Regions from separate parts of the Homo sapiens genome. Here region 1 is linked to region 2. Evidence: fine-mapped expression QTL. A gene starts in region 2. The other region holds a variant in brackets. All regions are shown on one strand. Distances are between the middles of the regions.

Evidence for each region.
Region 1: its variant is fine-mapped to the expression of ZCCHC10 in tibial artery (GTEx, PIP 0.97).

What each region holds. Positions count from the first base shown.
Region 1 is chr5:133,928,459-133,941,069 of GRCh38, reverse strand. LOC105379182 (a long non-coding RNA gene) reads left to right here. Exons shown (of 5, transcript XR_948797.3): 4 at 12,133-12,270. Among named protein-coding and RNA genes, the nearest start is that of WSPAR, 21 kb to the right of the region's middle. RefSeq lists enhancers at 7,753-7,812, 7,275-7,902, 10,597-10,746, 12,330-12,379 and a silencer at 10,297-10,376. The variant A/G (reference allele first, on the strand shown) is at 5,762.
Region 2 is chr5:133,019,950-133,032,560 of GRCh38, reverse strand. It overlaps ZCCHC10 (zinc finger CCHC-type containing 10), which reads left to right and starts at 6,012. Exons shown (of 5, transcript NM_001300816.3): 1 at 6,012-6,064; 2 at 9,655-9,720. The coding sequence starts at 6,024. RefSeq lists a silencer at 5,733-5,862 and an enhancer at 5,943-6,252.

The DNA.
Region 1 (12,611 bases), 910 kb before region 2:
GCAAAACTACTCCTAAGCCTTGACCACTGGGATCTGCAGACACTGGATCTGAGGAATGAGGAAACAGGCAGTCCTTTTAGGGGCCGCTAGACACTAGATTTTAATTTTTGCTAATTCCTGGGAACTCAAACTACCCCCTTGGTCTACTAGTCAAAGGAAAGGTTTATGGTGGTGAGCTGATAAATGGAGTTTTGACCAAACTTCATCTCACACTGGGCCCATGGACTCACTCTTGTGATACTTCCTTAGTCTCTAGGTATCTAATTGGAATAGACATACTCTGCAATTGACAGAATCATCACATTAGCTCCCTGACCTATAGACTGAGAGCTATTATGAATTTTCCTCTTCCTGCAAGGATAGTAAGCTAAAAACAATATTGCATCCTTGGCAGGGGGTGGGGGGAGGATTTTAGAGAATAGCATCAAAATACAGGGATCCTGGAATCAAGAAGGTAAAAGTGAGCAAAGCTTCCTTCACTACTATACCTAATAACACACTCATAATTTTTGCTTCCTGACTTTGCAACTTTGGACTCAGCTAGTTTGGAAGTCTTGGTTTTCAAGGGAGAAACCAGGAAACACAACAATGACACCACAGAATTGGAAGTTTAGACTGCTACCTAGCCTCTAATGTTAGGCTGCTAACAGGCACAGATGGTGTTTACCATTTGTATTAGTTTTCGCATTGCTATATAGAAATACCTGAGGTCGGGTGCAGTGGCTTACGCCTGTAATCTCAGCACTTTGGGAGGCTGAGGTGGGTGGATCACCTGAGGTCAGGAGTTCGAGACCAGCCTGACCAACATGGTGAAATCCTGTCTCTACTAAAAATACAAAAATTAGCCAGGTGTGGTGGAGCATGCCTGTAATCCCACCTACTTGGGAGGCTGAGGCAGGAGAATCACTTGAACCTGGGAGGTGGAGGTTGCAGTGAGCCAAGATCACACCTTTGCACTCCAGCCTGGGCAACAAGGGCGAAACTCCATCTCAAAAAAAAAAAAAGAAAAGAAATACCTGAGACTGGATAACTTATAAAGAAAAGAGGTTTAATTGGCTCAGAGTTCTGCAGGCCATGCAGGAAGCATAGTGGCTTATGCTTCTTGGGAGGCCTCATGAAACTTACAATCATAGTGGAAGGCAAAGAGGAAGCAGGAATGTCTTATGTGGCTGGAGCAGGAGGAAGAGAGAGAGAGACAGAGAGAGAGAGGGGAGGAGCTACACACGCTTAAACAACCAGATCTCACGATAACTCACTCACTATCACAAGAACAGTACCAAGGGGAATGGCGCTAACCCATTCATGGGAACTTCACCCCCCATGATCCTGTTACCTCTCACCAGGCCCCACCTCCAACAGGGAGGATTACAATTCAACATGAGATTTGGGTGGGGACACAGATCCAAACCATATCACCATACTAGTGGGATGATTGATCCTGATTATCAATACATTCATTGTTTTGCTTAAGTTAGTTTGAGTTGGTTTCCTGTCCTTTGCAACAAAGATATATAGTAGGAGCTCAATAACTACTAAATTGTGAGTTAGTTTCTCTTCCATCTCTTTAGGTTGCTCCATGAATGGGCCACAGAGTAGCATGAATAATTCCCATTTTTTTCTATGGGTGAGAGGGTCCATTCTGACCCGGTTCCTGACTACACCTGGAAATGGAGTCCACTCTGAGGTGGGGTGGGGGCAAAGGGGAGTGCAACCTGGAGAGAGCAGCAGAGAATGGAAACAAACTTTGGTTGTTTTTTAAAACATGAAAAAAAATGTAGCAATTTCACTTCATGTTTAGTATCACTTTACATTTTATTCCTCTCCCCAAACACTCTCAGGGCCTCTGAAAGTTTCTGCAGTGCACAATTTGAAATTGCTTCTTTGTTTCATAACTCCAGGGATAGCTTGAGGTAAGAGTCAGAGCTCTAAAGGAAGTCACCTTTGTGCCCCCGCTTCTCTTTGTTACAATGCCCAGTGATGCTTACTTAATGGGTCGGAAATGAGGTCTCAGGTGTTTATGTCAGAGCTTTGAGAATCTTATCTGGTGGTGCAACTTTCACTCAAAATTAATGTGCTGCATGGTGAGGGGGATGAATAAACTCGTTAGGAGAGTGAACAGATTTCCTCATTGTCACCTAACAGCATTCATTGTTTGTGTGCTTAGAATAATGTCTTTTCTACAAACCAAATGGGAAAATGCCCTAATGTATTTCCCTGAATTTGGCCTGCCACTATTGTAAATTACCTTGCTTAATGGACTTTGATATTCTGTTATCTATTTGGAAACTTCTGAGCTCCTGGAGAACCAAATCAAGTGTCTTAGTCCCAGGAAGGGAAGGCAGGCTTAGAAGATTTACAGCTCTGTGAACATCATTATTGATGTTTGTTGTGTTTTGCAAACAACTTTCCTGTGGAATAAGTGCTTATGATGATGCTGCGGGCAGTTTTTCTGATAAGTCGCCCTGAAATAATGACTACCAGGGACCATAAATTCCCTTTGGAAATCAACATTCCAGGAAGGTATTTGGCAATTATTTCAACCCCACCCCCACCCCCACCTCAGCTGCTCGTGGGAACCCTGCCAAGTTCCTCAGCAACCTTCAGGGTATTTACTAAGGTCGCTAAAATAATCATAACAACAACAACTCCAACAACTCCAACTCACTCCAACTCCAACAGCACACATTTGTAGCTTACAGAGGGGTTCACAGACCTTATCTCACTGAAGAAATGCGGAAGTTGAGGCCCAGGGACACCAGCCAGTAGTGAGGGCTGCTGGAAACAGGGCAGGGCCCACTGTCTCTACTCTGTACTTCTGTGTTGGTTAATTTTATGTGTTGACTTGACTGGGCCACATGCCACCCAGATATTTGGTTAGACATTATTCCGAGTGCTTCTGTGAGGGTGTTTTTGGATGAGAATAACTTTTCTTATTTTTTGTTACTATTTTTTTCAAGAGTCAGAGTCTTGCTTTGTCACCCAGGTTGGAGTGCAGTGGCATGATCACAGCTCACTGCAGCCTGAAACTCCTGGGCTCAGGTGATCCTCCTTCCTCAGCTTCCCAAACAGCTAGGACTACAGATGTGCATCACCACATCAAACAAAGTTTTTATTTTTATTTTTCTAGAGATGAGGTCTTGCTGTGTTACCCAGACTGGCCTTGTTCTTTTTGAGATAGGATCTCGCTCCATTGCCCAGCCTCCAGGCTGGAGTGCAGTGGTGCGATCTCAGCTGACTGCAACCTCTGCCTCCCAGGCTCAAGTGATCCTCCCACCTCAGCCTCTGAGTAGCTGGGACTACAGGTACGTGCCACCATGCCTGGCTAATTTTTGTATTTTTTGCAGAGATGTAAGTTTCATCATGTTGCCCAAGCTGGTCTTGAACTCCTGGACTCAAGTGATCCACCTGCCTCAGACTCCCAAAATGCTGGGATTACAGGCATGTGCCACCACACCTTGCTGAGAATAACATTTAAGTAGTAGACAGAGTAAAGCAGGTTATCTTTTTTAACGTGGTTGGGCCTTATCCAATTAGTTGAAGGCCTGAATAAAACAAAAACGCTGACCCTCCCCCAATTAAGAATTCTTCTGCCTGATGGCCTGTGAACTGGAACATAGGCTTTTCCTGGTTCCACAGCGACTTCTGGCCTTTGGGCTTAAACTAGGACATCAGCTCTACAGATTTTGGATTTGCCGGACCCCATAATCATGTGAGCCAATTCCTTAGAAGTCTCTCTCTCTCTCAATCTGTCTGCCATCTCTCAGTAGCCATGTTCACAAACTCTTTATGTGTATATATGGCTGCTATTGGTTCTGTTTCTCTGGAGGACTCTGACTAGTACAGCCACTCATCTCATGTCATTAAACAATGTACCCCCACTGGCCCCCCTTGCCAGTCCCTGAGCTGAGGTGCAGGCTTGAGTGAGGGAGACAAAAGGCTAAGATTGCTTGTGAGAGTAAAGTGTTTTTAGATTTTTAAAAATTTAAATTGTGGTAAAATACAGATAAAAATTTACCCTACTGATCATTTTTTTAAGTGTATAGCTCAGTAGGATAATATATTCACAGTGCTGTATAAAGTTTTGATTTTAGCTGGACTAGATAAGACTCTTTAATACCTGAAGATAACATCATCCTTAGAGCCAAAAGTGACCCCAAATTATGGGATTTTCAGGGAGAGGAAAAAAACAAAAAAAAGCTCTTGCCTGTTTGCCTCGTGGAGCTGAGGCCTTTCTCTAAACCATGGTGGGAGCCAGCTGTAGAGCTGTGATAACAGCAAGGTCATGAGGAGCCACAGAACCGGAGGAGGGGCCACAGAACTGGAGGAGGAGACACAGAACCAGAGGAGGGGCCACAGAACCGGAGGAGGGGCCACAGAACCAGAGGAGGGGCCACAGAACCAGAGGAGGGGCCACAGAACCGGACGAAGAGCCACTGAACCGAAGGAGGAGCCACAGAACCAGGGGAGGAGCCACAGAACGAGAGGAGGAGCCACAGAACCAGAGGAGGAGTCACAGAACCAGAGGAGGAGCCACAGAACCAGAAGAGGAGCCACAGAACTGGAGGAGGAGCCACAGAACCAGAGGAGGAGTCACAGAACTGGAGGAGGAGCCACAGAACCGGAGGAGGAGACACAGAACCGGACAAAGAGCCACTGAACCGAAGGAGGAGCCACAGAACCAGGGGAGGAGCCACAGAACCAGAGGAGGAGCCACAGAACCAGGGGAGGAGCCACAGAACCAGAGGAGGAGCCACAGAACCAGGGGAGGAGCCACAGAACCAGAGGAGGAGGCACAGAACTGGAGGAGGAGCCACAGAACCAGAGGAGGAGACACAGAACCGGATGAAGAGCCACTGAACTGAAGGAGGAGCCACAGAACTGGAGGAGGAGCCACAGAACTGGAGGAGGAGCCACAGAACAAGAGGAGGAGCCACAGAACCAGAGGAGGAGTCACAGAACCAGAGGAGGAGCCACAGAACTGGAGGAGGAGCCACAGAACCAGAGGAGGAGTCACAGAACCGGATGAAGAGACACTGAACCGAAGGAGGAGCCACAGAACCAGGGGAGGAGCCACAGAACGAGAGGAGGAGCCACAGAACCAGAGGAGGAGTCACAGAACCAGAGGAGGAGCCACAGAACTGGACGAGGGGCCACAGAACCTGATGAGGGGGCCACAGAACCGGAGCAGGGGCCACAGAACCCGGGAGGGGAGCCACAGAACCAGAGGAGGAGCCACAGAACCAGAGGAGGAGCCACAGAACCGGGGGAGGAGCCCAGAACCAGGGGAGGAGCCACAGTACTGGAGGAGGAGCCACAGAATCAGTGGGGGTTTGGGGAGGAGGGGTCATCCTGGCTGAATGTTGAAGAATGGTGGGATCTGAACAACTGAAGATGGGGAGGGCGAGGGGCCTGAGGTGGCCAGTGCAGAGAACAGCCTGAGTGCAGGCCAGTCTCAGCACATACACCTGCCACCCTGCTGCCAGGATGGTGGGCATGTGTCCTCGGACCACAGCCACCTTGATGACCATACACATTCCTGTTGCCTCTGCAGTCCTAGCTGGTTCTCTAGCAGCTCTATAATTCTGGAGGAGCAGTGTGCCCATCCCCTACTCCCTCTGAGCTTCCTCTCCACGCCTGAGAGGCATTTTATAAATAGCCTGTTGACAAAACCTTAAATATAATACCCCTGGGAGCTAAATTACCCAGTGGCACAGCTGTAAGTATGTAAGGGCCATCGGGGTGTGACCAGTGGGGCTGGCAC[A/G]TGCAGGGAGGGGCAGAGCATGGCGCTTTGCTCCTGGTCCATGTCCTGAGCATGACCAGGACTGGCCTGAAGGAGTGGGATAGGAGCTGTCTAAACAGAGAGCCCTTCCTCAGGGTCCTCTGTCCTGACCAGCTTCTTCTCTGAGACCATGAAAGAACAGAGCACATGGCTGGGGGCAGTTTGGGGAGGAGCCAGCCTCTGGGGTCAGGCCTGGGACCCTGCACCAGGATTCCACCTGAAGCAATTCAGCCTTAAGTAGTGGTCTGCATCCCAGGCCTGGGGGATCTGACTTCAGCCTGCTGGCCGCCCCCACTCACCACATTGTGGCCACAGGAGCCTTCTTCCATGACTTCATATGCATGAAACCCAGGTTCCCTGTGGGGTCCCTTGCCTGCCAGGACCCCACAGGACCTCCTTTTCTTACTCTTTTGACCAGCTTCTTCTATCTGCCCCTCAAATCCCAACCAAAATTGTGCAGATGGGCTTTCCCCTATCATTCCATCCCTGGCTTGGATGAAATCAGAGCCCCTGGTGTACACTCCTGTGTCCCTCAAATTCTAATAGTTATTATATACTCATTGTTGAGTATCATTGTCATTGCTGGCTGAATGCCTGCCATCATTGAAAGCTCTGAGGACAGGGCACTGTCTGGCTGTTGCTCCCTGTATCCCTAGCACTTAGCATGGGGCCTGGCACACCGTGGGTGTGCAGGGAGTGTGACTGAATGAAAGACGGAAACTTTAGCAGAGCCCACACCTCTTTAAAACTAGAAGCACCCATACTCCAACAGCTGAGACCTCCCTTCACCTCTCTGGAAACATCTGGCAAGCTCCACAACTCAGTCCAGCTGAAGGAAGTGGAAGGGCCAGCCAGACCTTGCGCCAGGGTGTCCTGAGGACATACAGCTGGGAGCACTGGGCTGTGATCTTTAGCCAGGCAGGAGTGGGATGGCAGGAGAGGCGGTGCCTGCCCTGCAGGATCCTGGTTGGTGCCATCGTGTCAGTCACCCGGAGTGGGCCACAGGGGACAGAGAGGCCACCTTACACTCTACAAGGCAGGTTGTGGAGAGGTGAGGCCTTCGTGGGCAAGGGCAACTGGGCAGTGTGGTCTGTTAGGGTGTCGGGAGTGTCAGGTGGGGAGGCAAAGCTCCAGGCTGTGTCAGGATGTCAGGAGACACAGAGGTGAGGCCACAGCGAAGGTACAGGACTCGCCGCAGTTCCTGCATCATGAAGCCCTTCCTGACGAGTCCAGGCTTTGCTGACCACACCAGCAGCGTTAAAGTGAAGACCTGGTCATGCAGATCTGGAAGGTTGGCGCCCCTAGGACAAGCCACAACCCAGCAGGTCCCAGGTGGGAGGGAGAGGGTTAGGCAGCAGTGAGCAGTTGGGCCCACCTGGGACCACAAGGTCCCCACAGGCTTTCAGGGCTCAGATGTGTGAGCGGGGGTGGGAGCGGAGGGGAGAGGCAGTGGAGGAGGGTACAGGGAGAGAGAAAGATGGGTGGGAGGAGAAAGTGGGGATGAGGAGGAGGAAGGGAAGTGGATAGAGAAGGAGGAGGGAGGAGCAGGGAAAGAAGAGGAATGAAGGAAGGGGTGAGGAGGGAGGGGAGCCCTGGCCGCATGGTCGTTGGGCAGGCCTGGTGCAGGCAGTGTGGCCCACATGCTGCCCCTCCAGACACGGGGCTCAGCCTGGTGGCCGGGGGCAGGGAGCCTCCTGGCCTAAGCCTCACATTCACAATTGCCTCTTTATATTTAGATGTTGGGGATGGTTCCAAGTGAGGTTTTAATGTTAGGAGCAGTTATTTGTTAAATGTAAGCATTTAAAACCTGCCACAGGATTTATATCCGCATCTTGGTATGTCTTTGGTTTTTAATCTATAAGAGGCCTGATAAAGTAAGTGGATGTGGTCCAGACCTCTGGGCCTGGGGCAGCCCCATGGGGAAAGCCTTTCTCGGGAATAGAGCCTCAGGCTGAGGGAGCCCTAGGCCCAGTTCCCACTTGTACACATTGCTGGATGTCTTACCTCACTGGCTCTGCAAGCCCTGGCCAGCCACCAAGCCTCCCCACCACTGGGAGAACTTAAGGTGCTTTAATCAATTCTTTTTCACCCCATTAGTGCGGGAGGATGTCACCCTATGGTTACGGGATGCGTGAACACTTGACACCCAGCACTGGACAGATATGTTGACAGCAGTTTATCAGTCATATATGCTCACAGCCCCAGGGAGGACTCAGCACTCCACACCAGCCACAGGGGAGTCACACTCAGGAGCAATGTGAACCACCTGGGGCTGTGGAAGCAGGCTTTGTAGTACCAAGAGGGCGAGGTGCCCCTGCTGCCCATGGGAGGACGTGGTTGACTTGGCTGAATAGTTCTGAGGGCTGGCAGGGAACTGAAACTCAGAGAGAAGCAGGAACTGCATCTGGTCTCCCGGATAAGGAGGTTGTCTGGCCAGAGGACCTTATCCACAGGAACAGAGGTGGAGGGGGAACTTGTGGTTAGACCATCCGAGGCCCTCCCAATTTTACCAGTTGTCACGGTGGCACATAGTAGGCCTTCATTTTAGGCCTTATAGCACAAATGAGCTAATGGGCTTAGAGCTCCTGCTTCAAGTGCAGGGCAGAGGAAGAAGGCTGGAGCTGGAGCAGATGGCGGCATGGTCAAGGGCTCAGTGAGAGCTCGGGAGAGGCTGTTGGGGACTGCGAGGGCCCCAGGAGGTCGCCCAGGAAGACACGTTAAAGCTCTCTGGCACATTCTTGCCCCTGCTGTGCTTAAACCAAATCAAACTTATTCCTGGTAGAGGACCATTCCATTTTTCTGATCTGATGGAGAAGAAATACGTTGAATTGAATGAAGATACACTGAATGTCTTCAGGCCAGTAGTCTCAAGGTCCAGCCACCAAGAGGGCAAACTGACCTTGACAGGTGCAGGATCAGGGTCCTGGGATGTGGGAAGCCCTAGAGTATCTTCCGTCCCCCTTCTCCCCTCGAAACCCTAGATCTGGGCTCATGGATGGACTTGGGGAGTCATCAGAAAGATGGAGACAGGCTGGGCACGGTGGCTCATGCCTGTAATCCCAGCACTTTGGGAGGCGGAGGTGGGCGGATCTCTTGAGGTCAGGAGTTTGAGACCAGCCTGGCCAACATGGTGAAACCCCATCTCTACTAAAAGTGCAAAAAATTAGCAGGGTGTGGTGGCGCATGCCTGTAATTCCAGCTACTCAGGAAGCTGAGGCAGAAGAACTACTTGAACCCGGGAGGCGGAGGCTGCAGTGAGCCGAGATCGCGCCACTGCACTCCAGCCTGGGTGACAGAGCAAGACTCTGCAAAAAAAAAAAAAAAAAAAAAAAAAAGAAAGAAAGATGGAGATGTGGCCCAGGGCCACACATTCCAGATCTCCATGGTTTCCTTTGGAGTCATTGTCTCCATCTTTGCAGACTGACAGGTCAAACCCTCCAGTGTGCCCTTAACCGCAGCAGTCTCTGTATCCTCCTTCCACTTGGGCTTCGCTACTCCTCTGAGCCCAGTGCCAGACTCAGGGGCTGCACAGGACCCCACCCTTGCTTTCCTGGCCCTCACGCTGTGGTTCCCTCGGCCTTTCCACAACGCTTCCTGATTCTGTAGGTGCTGGAGCTTCTTCCTGCAGTGGTCAGTGGTCCATTGTCCTTGTCACACTTTTCTGACCCCAGTGAGGGGACAGTGTATTTGGATATGAATCTGTTTTGGTCTCACTGCAAGATTTGGGACACTTTTCCTAAAGTTGGGAAGGGGCTGGTGGTTCAGTGTGCAGGTTTCGCAAGCAATAGAGAATGGTACACCTGGCCTAGGCACTTGCTAAGACCTGGCAGGACCTCAGGGGGGTATCTGGCAGAGGCCCACCCTTGCTGTCACATCAGGGGTGATGTGAGACTCTTCCCTGAATGTTCTGCTGTGTACAGGACCCCCAAGAATATTGCATGACCCTAGGGAGGGAAAGAGGCCTCACTAAAACCTGACCAATGCTGGCTTTCTCATCAGCCTTGGAAAGTGGCTCATGAAACACCACCTACTCATTTTTCCCCCTAACTATAAAAGCAATTCGTCTTAGAAAATTTAGAAAATATGGAAGAATGCAAAGACGACCAGACTTACCCAGAACCCCACCACCCAGGAGGAAGCACTATTGCCATTCGGGTCTCTTTCCCTCCAGTCATGATTTTGCCTGTTTAGTGATGAATATATGCAGTTTACAGGATGAGGGTTCCACTGTAGAGAGAGTTCTGTTTGCTGCCTTTTGTTTAATAGCTGCACAATATTCTCCTGCATGGATCTGCTATCATACATTTCCCCTTTTTTGGGCTATTTGGGTTGTTTCCAGTTTTTTTTTTTTTTTTTTTTTTTTGCTATTATTAGTAATGCTGCTGGAAACGTCCTTGCATATTGGTCTTTATGTATGTCTCTGATAACGTGATTTGTCACGAGTCACTGTGCAAAGACCCAGCTTGGGTATAAGGAGGTGTCCCAACCCAGAGCTCCAAAGTTAGACACAAACACCCATTTTCAGAGCTCTTGTCCCTTTAGCGAGGGTGTAGTGTGCGCCAGATTAGAGCTAACCTTCTCTTTACCTGCCTGAATTACCTGCCTGAAGGGTTCAAGTCTTCCCCACAACCCTTTAAGGTGACAGTATTTCTGCCCCTGGTTGACAGACAAGGGAACTGAGGCACAGATAGAGGCTAACTACTTGCCCAAGATCCCATAGTCAGTGGCAATGCTGGAACTTAAAACAAACAAAAGCAAACCACCCACCGCAGTGCAGGGACGGCGGCTCTGACACAAACGTAAATCATATCGTCACTAGCTGACTCCCACATGCCCGTTCGCGTTTTCACTTTCTCTGCTGCTTGGGTTTTCCACACCCCATCTTCCGGGTGGGTGTCTGAACACTTCCAATTCAGGACTGTTGAGCCTGACACTTCCTCTGCATTCGCTTGGCTCAAAGCTCCTGTCCACCTCCATCCACCACATCTGAAACTTTGAGAAGGGAGCTTCAAAATGTCATTGGAGCTGGAACAGCACATTTGCTGGTGGGGGACCCTGCTGTGACTCACTGCTGGGCTCAGAGCCACTGGAAACATTTCTCTTGGTAAGGAGGCCAATGTGGCCAGCAGAGCTTTACAGGCCCAAGGCCCTGCCTGAGCTACCTCAGAAGAGAGGAGGCACCGTGTAGTGCTTCCAGAACGCCTCCCACGGTCTCTCAGCGGAGTGGGGACCCACGGATGTGCTGAGGAGAGAGATCCAGACTGTGGGTGACACATGCAAATGCCCAGTTGCCACATACGCTGGACTCTTCCCAGTTCCAGGAGCCTGCAAAGCTCCTGAGCCTGTCTTTCCAGAATGTTCTTCCAGCCAAAGTCTAAGGTGCTGATGAGGAAAAAGCAGAGTAAGACTGTGATGATGCTGGAGAATGTGTACCCATACTGGAGGCAGTATGGGGACTGTCGTGGGTTGACCTGTGCCATCCAAAAGACATGTTACAGTCTTAGCCCCATTATTTCAGAATGTGACTTTATTTGAAAATAGGGTCTTTACAGATGAGGTTTGTTAAAATAAGGTAACACTGGATTAGGGTGGGCCCTAAATCAACGGCTGGTGTCCTTATAAGAAGGCCATGTGACAATGGAGGTGGAGATTGGTGAGATCCAGAAGCGAGGAGACGCAGGGAATTGATTCTACCTGGAGCCTTCAGAGGGAACATGGTTCTGCAGATACTGTGATTTTGGACTTGGCCTCCAGAACTGAGAGAATACCTTTCTTTTGTTTAAAGCCACCCAGGTTATGAACACTAATATAGGGGGTGAATTGGAGGGCTTGGCCCACCCGGAGGCACTAGATTCCATTCCTAGAGGCTGGAACGATGTCCTCAAAAGAGGAAGGAAGGGTTAGGACAGGATTTTCAATCCAAAAGTCCAAGTAGAAGGAAACATATTCGAAGCTTGGCCCTTAAGTCTGTGATCTTGGCCTTCTCAATGGTCTGTCCCTGGGGCCTCCCCAGTTTGGTCAGGCTCTGGGGCCTGTGTGGGCCCGACAGTGCATATCCTCTGTGTGAGGACTGGTCTGGCTGAGAAGTTTCTGTGTGTTATGGGATCAAAACTGAGATTGGACTTTGTACGTCCAAGCCAGAAAGTAGAAAGTGATTTCCTTTAAATCATCTTAAAAAGTTTCTGACTAGAATTTTAAGTCTGTTTATCAGCACAAGGGACTCTATATCACTCTCTACCACCCCCTATTTCTCTATTTTAACTGGAAGATAAAAATAGTTAATCAGAGAGTCAGAGTTGAATGGGGAAAGTACCTGATTCTCACATTCTTTCCTTTTTCTCTCATTCACAAAGTGAATTTGGAGATAGGGAGCAGCTGGCTGAGGGAGGAGCGCCCCAGCATCTGTATTGATGGAGAAGAAACCCGGCTGGGTCCATGGGGACCCACAGCTGCCACCATCAAAGCCTCATCCAGCATAGGCCGGAGCAAGGGTAAAAGCTTATTTGCGGGGAGCTGAACTTCCCCTTCCCCAAAGCCAGACAGCAACCTGAGTGACCCGGTTCAGAGTGGAAGCCTGAATCCTCCCCTCCTTTCTCTTATTTGTCATTATTTAAAAATCCTTCAGTCCCCTTCAGGGCTCAGATCTTATTGCTGTTGATTCCCGCCCCCTCCCCCTTTTTTTTTTTGAGACAGGGTCTCACTCTGTCACCCAGGCTGGAGTGCAGTGGCATGATCTCAGCTCACTGCAACTCTGCCTCCTGGGTTCAAGCTTTTCCCACCTCAGCCTCCCGAGTCGCTGGGATTACAGGCACGTGCCACCATGCCCAGCTAA
Region 2 (12,611 bases):
TCTCTATCCCCCTCCCTAAAAAATTTTTAATTAGCCAAGCATGGTGGCACATGCCTGTAATCCCAGCTATTCAGGAGGCTGAGGCTGGAGGATGGCTTGAGCCCAGGAGGTCGAGGCTACAGTGAGCTATGAATGCACCACTGCTCTTTAGTATTCCCAGCTACTCAGGAGGCTGAGGTAGGAGAATTGCTTGATCGCTTGAACCCGGGAGGCTGAGGTTGCAGTGAGCCAAGATCGCGCCACTGCTCTCCAGCCTAGGCGACCGAGCAAGACTCCATCTCAAAAAAAATTAAATTAAATTAAAATTTAAAAAAATAGCCCTTCAGAACATCGATTTTTTTTTTTTTTTTTTTTTTTTTTTTTGAGACAGAGTCTTGCTCTGTCTCCCAGGCTGGAGTGCAGTGGCACCATCTCGGCTCACTGCAAGCTCCGTCTCCCAGGTTAAAGCCATTCTCCTGCCTCAGCCTCCCGAGTAGCTGGGATTACAGGCAGCTGCCAACACGCCCGGCTAATTGTTTGTGTTTTTAGTAGAGATGGGGTTTCACTGTGTTAGCCAGGATGGTCTTGATCTCCTGACCTCAAGTGATCCGCCCACCTCGGCCTCCCAAAGTGCTGAGATTACAGGCGTGAGCCACCGCGCCCAGCCAGAACATCGATTTTTAAGTGACTGCTAATAAAATTTCATTGGAGAAAATGGAAAAGAAACTGTTTGTTTGTTTGTTTGTTTGTTTGTTTGAGATGGAGTTTTGCTCTTGTTGCCCAGGCTGGAGTGCAGTGGCACAATCTCTGCTCACCGCAACCTCTGCCTCCTGAGTTCAAGCGATTCTCCTGCCTCAGCCTCCCAAGTAGCTGGGAATACAGGCATGTGCCACCATGCCCAGCTAATTTTGTATTTTTAGTAGAGATGGGGTTTCTCCATATTGGTCAGGCTGGTCTCAAACTCCCGACCTCAGGTGATCCGCTCGCCTCGTCTCCCAAAGTGCTGGGATTACAGGCATGAGCCACTGCGCCTGGCCAGAAACAGTAGTTTTTAAATGCAGAGACAGAACATGAATATTTTGTCACAGAAATAATCCTGGTCCAACATATAATAAATGGACAAGTGTACTGTATTACCTAAAGTGGACACATTTACAAATGCTGGCAATACTTGGAAATTTGCAGCAAGCTTTAATATGCATGTGATCCCAGCACTTTGGGAGGCTGAGACTGGTGGGTTACTTGAGCCCAAGAGTTCAAGAGCAGCCTGGGCGTGCACACACACACACATGCACACACAGATTTGCCAGGTATGGTGGCACATGCCTACAGTTCCAGCTACTTGGGAGGCTGAGGTGGGAGGATTGCTTGAACCTGGGAAGCAGAGGTTGCGGTAAGCTGTGATCGCACCACTGCATTCTAGCCTGGGTGACAGAGTGAGACTGTCTCAAAAATAAAATTAAATAAATAAAAACAAATTAAAAATTATATATATGTAATATAGCTCTATCATATATATATATATATATATATATATATATATATATATATATATATATATATATATATGATAGAGACAGAGTTTTGCCATTTTGCCCAGGCTGGTCTCAAATTCCTGGGCTCAAGCAATCCACTCACCTCAGCCTCCCAAAGTGCTGGGATTACCGGGATGAACCACCATGCCTGGCCCTAAAGTGTTCTTAAGCTATATTTGCTTTTTGTGGAGACAGGCTATCTTGCCATTCTTATTCATAAAACAAATTATAATTACTGTTTTATTTTGCATTACACACCATGTAAACTTAATCTTGATTTAGTATTTTTCTTTTTGAGATAGAGTCTTACTCTGTCTACCAGGCTGGAGTGCAGTGGTGTGACCTCAGCTCAAGCCGAGGCAATATTAGGTACACAGATACTGCAGGGGGTTGAACCTGATGATCTGCTGGCAATTGTTTAAAGAGGAAGCACACAAGTTCCCAGTCCTGAGATCTGAACTTTTCTGATTCAAGATCTTTGCAAGGCCTGGGTGTTCAATTACTTCTATACTATGAGCTAGCCAATAAACTTCCAATAAATTCATTGTTTATGTGGCCAGAGTTTTGTTTTGTTTTTCTTGCAATTGAATCTGAATTGACATAAGGAAATTGGTTCTGTGTTATCTCAAACAAAACTGGCTGGAAGGGAGAAATAGATGTGTAATGGAAAAAGCTCAAGGCTGTGGGCCTTGGACAAATCTCTTAACATGCCTGAGTCTCAGTCCCTTTATTTGTAAAATGAGGATAAACCCTACCTGTGGTGATAAAGTCAAGGATCCTTTGGGGTCAAGAAAGAGAAACCTAACTTGAACTATCTTAATAAAAAAAGAAATGCAGGCTGGGTGCAGTGGCTCACGCCTGTAAACCCAACACTTTGGGAGGCCAAGACGGGCAGATCATTTCAGGCCAGGAGTTTGAGACCAGCCTGACCATCATGGTGAAATACTATCTCTACTAAAAATACAAAAAATTTAGCCAGGCATGGTGATGCATGCCTGTAATCCCAGCTACTTGGGAGGCTGGGGCATGAAAATTGTTTGAACCCGGGAGGCAGAGGTTGCAGTGAGCCAAGATCATGCTGGGGCACTCCAGCCTGGGTGACAGAGTGAGACTTCGTAGGAAAAAAAAAAAAAGGAATATACTGAGGAAGCTGAGATAACCCCAAATAATCGAAGGAAAAGCGAATCAAGTCTAGGTAGGTCTTTTTCTGTCTCTCATCTCTGTTTCTCTTGGCATGTCAATTTCCTTCTCTTCTACTGCAGACTAGTTTAAATCACCAGAGGAGCCAGCAAATCCTGGACTCACAATCACACAGCCTTATGATCTATGTCACAGCAAAGTGTTGCATCAAAGCCTGAGGACTTTAAGGAACCCAAGCAGCTTCATCTGAAGATAAGGAAACATGACACAACTATTGAGCATTTTGTTTTTAGGTCTTCTTGGAAAGTGGAAATAAATTAAGGAAAGCAGCTCTCACCTCATTCTGGGGAGTTTCGGGCACTACTCATGCCCTCATGCCCAGAGGTGGATGAAAGAGCCAATCCTGTTTTCATTTGGAGAATCAGAGCTTCTTACTCACAGAGGCCCAGAATGGCCACTCTCAAATCCCCTTGCATAGCCACTCTTCTTTACAAAATGAATGGTCACCCTGCTCTGAACCACTCCCTTATTTAGCCAAGTTAGTTAAATTCTTTTTCTTTTTCTTTCTTTTTTTTTTGAGATGGAATCTTGCTCCGTCGCCCAGGCTAGAGTGTGGAATGCAGTGACACAATCTTGGCTCACTGCACCCTCTGCCTCCTGGGTTCAAGCGATTCTCCTGCCTCAGCCTCCTGAGTAGCAGAGATTACAGGCATGTGCCACCATGCCTGGGTAATTCTTTTTTTTTTGAGACAAGTCTCGCTATGTCACCCAGGCTAGAGTGCAGCGGTGCAATCTCGGCTCACTGCAACTTCTGCCTCCTGGGTTCAAGCAATTCTCCTGCCTCAGCCTCCCCAGTATCTGGGATTACAGGCACGCACCACCACTCACGGCTAATTTTTGTATTTTTAGTAGAGACGGGGTTTCACCATATTGGCCAGGCTGGTCTTGAACTCCTGACATCAAGTGATCCACAAGCCAAGATCATGTCACTGCATTCCACAGGTGTGAGACACCATGCCCAGCCAAGTTAGTTAAATTCTTTTATGCTACTGGAAGAAGAGTTCTTGTTGTTCTATGCCAAGGCATATGAAGGGTAAACCTACACTTGATTTTTGTACCAGATTCCAATTTTACCATTTACAGCACCGAGGTTTCCTGAATAGTTACAATAACCAATGGTAAAACATAAAGGGTAAAAACATTTTTTAAAAAAACAATAGCGCCATCCCGGTGCGTTGGCTCATGCCTGTAATCCCAGCACTTTGGGAGGCCAAGGCAGGCGGATCACCTGAGGTCAGGAGTTTGAGACCAGCTTGGCCGACATGGTGAAACCCTGTCTCTACTAAAAATACCAAAATTAGCCAGGCACGGGGGCAGGCGCCTGTAGTCCCAGCTATTCGGGAGGCTGAGGCAGGGGAATCACTTGAACCCGGGAGGCGGAGGGTGCAGTGAGCCAAGATAGTGTCACTGCACTCCAGCCTGGGCAATAGAGGTAGACTCCGTCTCAAAAAAAAGAAAAACAGGGTGCATGTCCTTTGACCCAGCAATCCTACTAGGATGTCATCTTATAGCAACACGGGGGATTTACTCTTTCTGTTGTTGTGGTAAATGATCTAATTGTTCAGCAATAGGGTACTGGCTGGATACTTGGGGAATATCCATGTAATCCATAACATAATGTATAAAAAGAATGAATTAGATCTGTATGTGCAGACATGGGAAAATATTTTCTTTTCTTTTTTTGTTTTTGAGATGGAGTTTCACTCTTGTTGCCCAGGCTGGAGTGCAATGGCGCGATCTCGGCTCACTGCAACCTCTGCTTCCCAAGTTCAAGCGAATCTCTTGCCTCAGCCTCCCGAGTAGCTGGGATTACATGAATGCACCACCACGCCCGGCTAATTTTTTTTGTATTTTTAGTAGAGATGGGGTTTCTCCATGTTGGTCAAGCTGGCCTTGAACTCCCAACCTCAGGTGATCCGCCCTTCTCGGCCTCCGAAAGTGCTGGGATTACAGGCGTGAGCCACTGCGCCTGGCCGGGAAAACATTTTCATAAGTACACTGAGGAATGAAAAAATCAAGCTGGAGAACACAACATGTAAGAGCCTATTTTTTTGAAGAACAAGTTGTGCTCAAAGGTCACATCATCACCTTCCCTAACTCCTAATCACTCTTTAATCCCTTACTCTGAAATATTTTTCGTTAGAGTACTTATGCCCATGAGAATAGTCTTCATTCATTGTCTGTAGAAAGTTCCATGTGTACACGGATTTTATTTGTTCAAATGCTCTGTCCTCAGCTCCTAAAACATTTTAAGTGTTAATTATTAATTGAAAAAATATGGCTGGGCGCGGTGGCTCACGCCTGTAATCCCAGCACTTTAGGAGGCCGAGGCGGGCGGATTATGAGGTCAGGAGATCGAGACCATCCTGGCCAACATGGTGAAACCCTGTCTCTAGTAAAAATACAAAAATTAGCTGGGCATGGTGGCGCGTGCTTGTCATCCCAGCTATTCGGGAGTGTGAGACAAGAGAATCTCTTGAACCAGGGACCCAGAGGTTGCACTGAGCCGAGATCGCGCCACTGCACTCCAGCCTGGCGACACAGCGAGACTCTGTCTCAAATTAAAAAAAAAAGGAAAAAATATGGATGACCCAGAAACACACACACACTTCAGAAAATTATATATATTTCAGAGAACGTGGGTTTTAAGAGAATAATAGCTCCGTGAGCTGACATTAGATGTAGGTGCAGCTAAAATATTCTAAAATATTTGTATAGTCCTTTTCTGCTTGATAAAGCAGCTTTAGTTATACAGTCCCATTTAGTACTCGTAACAACGCTGTGAAATACATAAAAAACAGAAATAACGTATATGTTTGCACTCCATGGCTTGCTAAAGTCATTCTTTCAATTGATGGTCTCAATCCTGGTCAACTAATTCCTTTCTATTCTCCAGACTACTTCTAGTTTTCTGAACACCAAAGTTTCATTCTTTGTCTTTGTATGTGTATCCCTCGTTCGAGAATGTTGTCCTCATTTTCCACAGATAATGTTCTTGCCTGTAATCATCCTTTGAAACCCTGTTCGGCCCGAGAACCCGAGACCCATACTGGAGACACCGGCCCCTCCCGACCCACCAGTCCCTCCCGTCCCGACCCTCCAGCCCCTCCAGCCCCTCCCCTCCCGACCCTCCAGCCCCTCCCCTCCCGACCCTCCAGCCCCTCCCCTCCCGACCCACCAGCCGGCACTAAGATACCTCCCCTTAGAAGCCTGTCTGGCCCCGCCTACGTCTACGGCCTCCCGGTTGGAAGCCCCGCCCTTCCGAGGAGTTTCCCAAAACCCTGCGCGGCCGGCTTTGACCGCGCTAAGATGGCGACTCCCATGCATCGGCTAATAGCCCGGAGACAAGCGTAAGTAAGGATCCGGTTCGGGTCCACTGGAGGGCTGGGAGCGGGGAAACGCGCGTCAACGGGCTGGTGTCGGACCCCTATTGGGACCGGCGGAGAATGTCCGTTTCTCAAACACTCTTCTGGCTCCCGGGGGGCTCGGGCCCGGGCGATAAGTCTGGTGACCGGGGGTTAGCGATTTCGCGGAAGACAGCCGCGTAAAGTCTGCGGCACGGGACAGAGCGGGGTTTGAAGACAACTGTCGCGTTTGGTTTCTCTGAAAGGAACGCCCACAGTTGGTCACTCAGTGATTTATGCCCCTCCGCCAACCCCACGCGTGGACAGGGGAGCCCTGAAGCCCCGGTCCGACACCTTTATTCCAGCCGACGTAAACCTTCAGTTTCCTATTCAGTGTCCAGCCCAGCTGCCTTTTCCTACTTCCTTATTCTAGCGCCTTCCTTAGGAACACCCTGCCTTCAATGCCGATTGCTTTCCCAGGCTATCTTACCACCTTTTGCTACTCATTCTCTCTTTCAATAAATATTAATTTATTTAGTTCCTACCGTTCTGTGCCAGACATTGGGTATAAATAGAGGTGTTCAAGACAAAATCCTTGCTTTCAGAGAGCTTACATTCTAGTGATGGAAACAGTCGATAAACCACAAATTGTAAATACAGCTGGTGATAACAGCTTTGAAGGAAGTAAGCTGTTGTGATGGAAAGAGGGAAAGGCCCACTTTAGGTTGGTTGGACTGGAAAGGCATCTCTGAAGAGGTGGAATTTGAACAGAGATTTAAAGGATGAAAAAGGAACAGTCATACGAGGATTTTGAGAAAGAGCATCCGGATAGTGGCATAATTGCTTTGAGCCTGAAACTTACTTTTTACAGAACTGAAAGATAGCCATTACGCCTAATGAACAAGAGAGAGTGGCAGAAGAGATTCATAGCTGACAAATAATGCAAGGGTCACCCCAGATGCCCCTTTCTTTTTTTTTTTTTTTTTTTTTTTTTTTTTTGAGGCGGAGTCTTGCTCTGTCTCCCAGGCTGGAGTGCAGAGGTGCAATCTTGGCTCACTGCAAGCTCCGCCCCCCGGGTTCACGCCGTTCCCCTGCCTCAGCCTCCCGAGTAGCTGGGACTACAGGCGCCCGCCACCATGCCCGGCTGGTTTTTTGTATTTTTAGTAGAGATGGGGTTTCACCGTGTTAGCCAGGATGGTCTCGATCCCCTGACCTCGAGATCCGCCCGCCTTGGCCTCCCAAAGTGCTGGGATTACAGGCGTGAGCTACCGCGCGCGGCAACCCCTTTCTTATAAAGCTTTTTTTTCCAACAGCCTTTGCACATCCAGACATCTGCCTCTTTTTCATAAATATTTCATGCCATCTCCATTTTCATGTCTATATGTAGCTCAGAGTCTGCTAGTATATGTATGTGTGTTTATCTGTATATCTTTTTATATTTTTTAATTCAAATAATCCCTTTTTCTTCTCCTTTCCATCTACCCTTTCAGGCCTGATAAGAAGAGTTCCTCAAATGTACAGACAGACTTAGGGAGTTAGAGTAGTAAGCTTGGTGAAGGAAGAAGGCTCGAAGTCAGACAGGTTTTTTTTGTTTTTTTTTTAGACGGAGTCTCACTCTGTTGCCCAGGCTGGAATGCAGTGGTGCGATCTTGGCTCACTGCAACCTCTGCCTCCCTGGTTCAAATGATTCTCCTGCCTCAGCCTCCCGACTAGCTGGGACTACAGGCGTCCGCCACCATGCCCTGCTAATTTTTGTATTTTTTAGTAGAGACGGGGTTTCACCATGTTGGTCAGGCTGGTCTCGAACTCCTGATGTCAAGTGATCTGCCCACCTTAGCTTCCCAAAGTACTGGGATTACAGGCATGAGCCACTGCGCCCACCATTAAGTCAGACAATTCTGAGATCAAAAATGGGATGGTGATACTTAAAGGGAGTGCTAAATGATGTCACCAGGATCCCATTTCTCCCTGTCTGTCTCTCATGCTTGCTCTTTCGTTGTTGGCTCCATATTTGGATAGGCTCTATTCTTTGCTCCCAAGATGGCTGCAGTATCCAGGGTCCTATCTATTCTCTCAGCTTCAAGTTGATTGCAGTTCTTTGGTCTAGATTGGATTACATGCCCAGTGCTAAACCATGCCTGTGGGATTGTGAAGCTCTGATTGATTTAGAGATCTTATTCTCCTTTCAGTACAATTGAATGGATGACCATAAGCCAATGATAACCAGGGTGGATAGGTCAGAGGAGTTAAATGAATGCAGGATTGGCAAAACCAATGTCCACTTTAAATATGAAGTGAAAATAAGACTTAGCATCTGAATAATACTGCTATTTCTTGTTTCAGAAGTATCAAAAGTTAAACAAATTTTTATATCTACAATATGTCTGTATTTGGTACATGAGTTACATGATTTGTAAAAGACAAATCTTACCTTTAAGGAGCTTCTGGTCTTGTTGGGAAGCAAACATGTGGCATATTATAAAAAGTGTTGTGGTATACAGAGTGTAAGTCTCCAAGGGATTCAGCAAAGGAGGGCCTTTAGAGGCTTGCGAAGTCCAAGAGAATTTGGGGGGAAAGCAGGAGAGGAGCCTTTACTTTTCATTTTATATTCATCAAAAAGGTTTAATTTTATTTACAAGGAGCATATATTACTTACATAACAACAAATTTAAAATAGTTTTTAAGTTAGTAATGAGAAATGAGAAAGCACTATCATCAATTTTTTTTTTTTGAGATGGAGTTTTGCTCTTGTTGCCCAGGCTGGAGTGCAGTGGCATGATCTTGGCTCACCGCAACCTCCACCTCCCAGGTTCAAGTGATTCTCCTGCCTCAGCCTCCTTTAGCTGGGATTACAGGCATGTGCTACCCGCCTGGCTAATTTTGTATTTTTAGTAGAGACGGGGTTTCTCCATGTTGGTCAGGCTGGTCTCGAACTTCTGACCTCAGGTAATCTGCCCACTTCAGCCTCCCAAAGTGCTGGGATTACAGGTGTGAGCCACCGCACCTGGCTTTATCGTTCTTTAAAAAAAAAAAAAAAAAAAGGTCTTTGGACTAATAGAAGAAGACGGGGAAAAAAGTCTAAATACGAACTCCTCATTCAGTAGATCTTTCGGAGACTTAACTAGTCAGTCTACTAAATCAATTGGAATGAAATAATTGATTTAATTATTTTTACCTTGTAAACTGTACTTACATCTACCTATATTAAGTAAATTATGGAGTCTAGGCATTATTTGGGGTCATTTCTTCTATTAAACCTTATATGAGATTCCACTACTCCTTCTTCAACATCCAGAGTCGTCATCAAACTTGGCTTGAAGACTTCCAGTAATGTGTACTTACCTCCTGAAGTGGCCTGTTGTGTTTTCAAATCTATCTAAAAGTTTATGTTGAGCTGAAAAACAATAATATTTATAAAGTTAAACCCCATTTCTTTCTTACTCCCTTGTTTTTGAACCTTGCTATGATTTCAGTCAGTTAAAAAACCTTGTTTTCTACCTGAATTGTCATCAAGTCAGACCTCCCCTGCCTTGTATTGATTTTCTGGACTTAAGTGTCAGACTTACCTTTGTCCTTGTTAAATTTCATCTTGTTAGATTCGACACAGAGTTGCAGCCTGTCAAGACCTTTTGGATCCTGATTCAGCCATCCATCGTTATTAGGTATCCCTCTCAGCTTTGTGTCAACTGCAGGTTTGATAAATATGTACATTTGTGTCCTCATACAAGGCATTTATAAAAATGTTGAACAAGGCCGGGGCGTGGTGGCTCATGCCTGTAATCCCAGCACTTTGGGAGGCTGAGGCAGGTGGATCACAAGGTCAAGAGATCGAGACCATCCTGGCCAACATGTTGAAACCCCATCTCTACAAAAATTACAAAAATTAGCTGGATGTGGTGGCATGCGCCTGTAGTCCCAACTACTCGGGAGGCTAGGCAGGAGAATTGCTTGAACCCGGGAGACGGAGGTTGCAGTGAGCCGAGATCTCGCCACTGCAGTCCAGCCTGGCGACAGACCGAGAGTCTGTCTCAAAAAAAAAAAAAAAGTTGAACAATACCAAACCATGCAGGCCATAACTGGATCTCTCTCTATATTGTCATGCACCACATAACAGATCCCATATATTAATTCTATGGTTGTCCCATAAGATTATAATGGAGCTAAAAAAATTTCTGTTGCCTAGTGACATCTTGATGATCCTGACCCTGTGTAGACCTAGGCTAATGTGTGTGTGTCTTAGTTTTTTACAAAAAAGTTTAAAAAGAAAAATAAATTTTAATAGAAAACAGCTTATAGAATGAAGATATAAAGAAAGAAAAAATTTTTGTACAGCTATAAATGTGTTTGTGTGTTAATGGTTATTACAAAAGAGTCAAAAAGTTTTAAACATTTATAAGTTATAAAGTAGGCCGGGTGCGGTGGCTCATGCCTGTAATCCCAGCACTTTGGGTGGCCCATGGTGGGTGGATGACCTGAGGTCCAGAGTTCAAGACCAGCTTGATCAACATGGTGAAACCCCATATCTACTAAAAATACAAAAAATTAGCCAGGTGTCGTGGCGGGCACCTGTAATTCCAGCTACTTGGGAGGCTGAGGCAGGAGAATCACTATAACCTGGGAGGCGGAGGTTGCAGTGAGCCGAGATCACACCATTGCACTCCAGCCTGGGTGACAGAGCAAGACTCTGTTTCAAAAAAAAAAAAGTTATAAAGTAAAATTGTAGTAAGCTAAGATTAATTTATTATTGAAATTTAAAAAAATTATAAATTTAGGGCAGCCTAATGTACAGTATTTATAAAGTCTATGGTAGTGTCATGATTACTGTAGCTTCATAATAAGTCTTGAATCCACGTGTTAGTCCTCTGATTTTGCTCTTTTTCAGAGTTATTTTGACTATTTTAGATTGTATTTCCAGATAAATTTTAAATTAGCTTACCAAAAGCTGCTGCGATTTCAGCTGGGATTGCATTGAGTGTACAGATCAACCTATGGAGAATTGACATCCTAACAGTATTGAGTTTTCTGATCCGTGCTTATGTATATCTCGCCATTTATTTAGGTCATCTTTAATTTCTCTTAGCAGTGTTTTGTAGTTTTCAGAGGTCTTGCACATCTTTTGTCAGATTTGTCCCTAAGTATTGTAATAGTGTTTTTTAAAAATTTTAGTTTCAAAAGGCTGGGCGCAGTAGCTCACGCCTGTAATCCCAGCACTTTGGGAGGCTGAGGTGGGCGGATCACAAGGTCAGGAGATCGAGACCATCCTGGCTAACACGGTGAAACCCTGTCTCTACTAAAAATACAAAAATTAGGCCGTGCGCGGTGGCTCACGCCTGTAATCCAGCACTTTGGGAGGCCGAGGCGGGCGGATCACGAGGTCAAAAGATCAAGACTATCCTGGCTAACACAGTGAAACCCCATCTCTACTAAAAATACAAAAAATTAGCCGGGCATGGTGGCGGGTGCCTGTAGTCCCAGCTACTCAGTAGGCTGAGGCAGGAGAATAGCGTGAAGCCGAGAGGCAGAGCTTGCAGTAAGCCGAGATTGCACCACTGCACTCCAGCCTGGGCGACAGAGCGAGACTTGTCTCAGAAAAAAAAAATAATAAATACAAAAAATTAGCCGGGCATGGTGGCGGGCGCTTGTAGTCCCAGCTACTCGGGAGGCTGAGGCAGGAGAATGGCATGAACCCGGGAGATGGAGCTTGCAGTGAGCCAATATTGCACCACTGCACTCCAGCCTGGGTGACAGAGTGAGACTCCGTCTCAAAAAAAAAAAAATTTTTAGTTTCAGTTGTTGCTGGTAGTCTTGTGTCTAATGATCTTATGTCCTCTGACCTTACTAATTTATTAGTTCTAATAGCTCTTTTTTTTTTTTTTTTTTAAAGACAGGCTTTTGCTTTGTCAGACAGGCTAGCGTGTAGTTGTATGATCATATCTCGTTGCAGCCTTGAACTCCTGGCTCAAATGATTCTCCCACCACAGCCTCCTGAGTAACTGAGACTACAGCTGCAACCCACTACATTCAGCAATTTTATTTTATTTTTTTATTTATATTTTTTTGAGACAGAGTCTTGCTCTGTGGCCCAGGCTGGAGTACAGTGGCGTGATCTCGGTTCCTTGCAGCCTCTGCCTCCCAGGCTCAAGTGATTCTCATGCCTCAGCCTCCCAAGTAGCTGGGATTACAGGCTAATTTTTGTATTTTCAGTGGAGTTGGGGTTTTGCTGTATTGGCCAGGCTGGTCTTGAACTCCTGGTATCAAGTGATCTGCCTTGGCCTTCCAAAGTGCTGGGATATTACAAGTGTGAACCACCGCTCCTGGCCACAATTTTATTTTTTGTACAGGCAGGGTGTCACTATGTTGCCCAGGCTTGTCTTGAACTCCTGGGCTCAAATGATCCTCCCACCTCTGTTTCCCAAAGTGCTGGGATTATAGGCATGAGCCACTGTGCCTGGCCTAGTTGCTCTATTGTTTGGATTCTTAGGTATTTTCTAGATAAATGATCATCTTTTATGTTCTCTTTTTGGTATGTACTTTTCTTTTTTTTTTTTTTTGA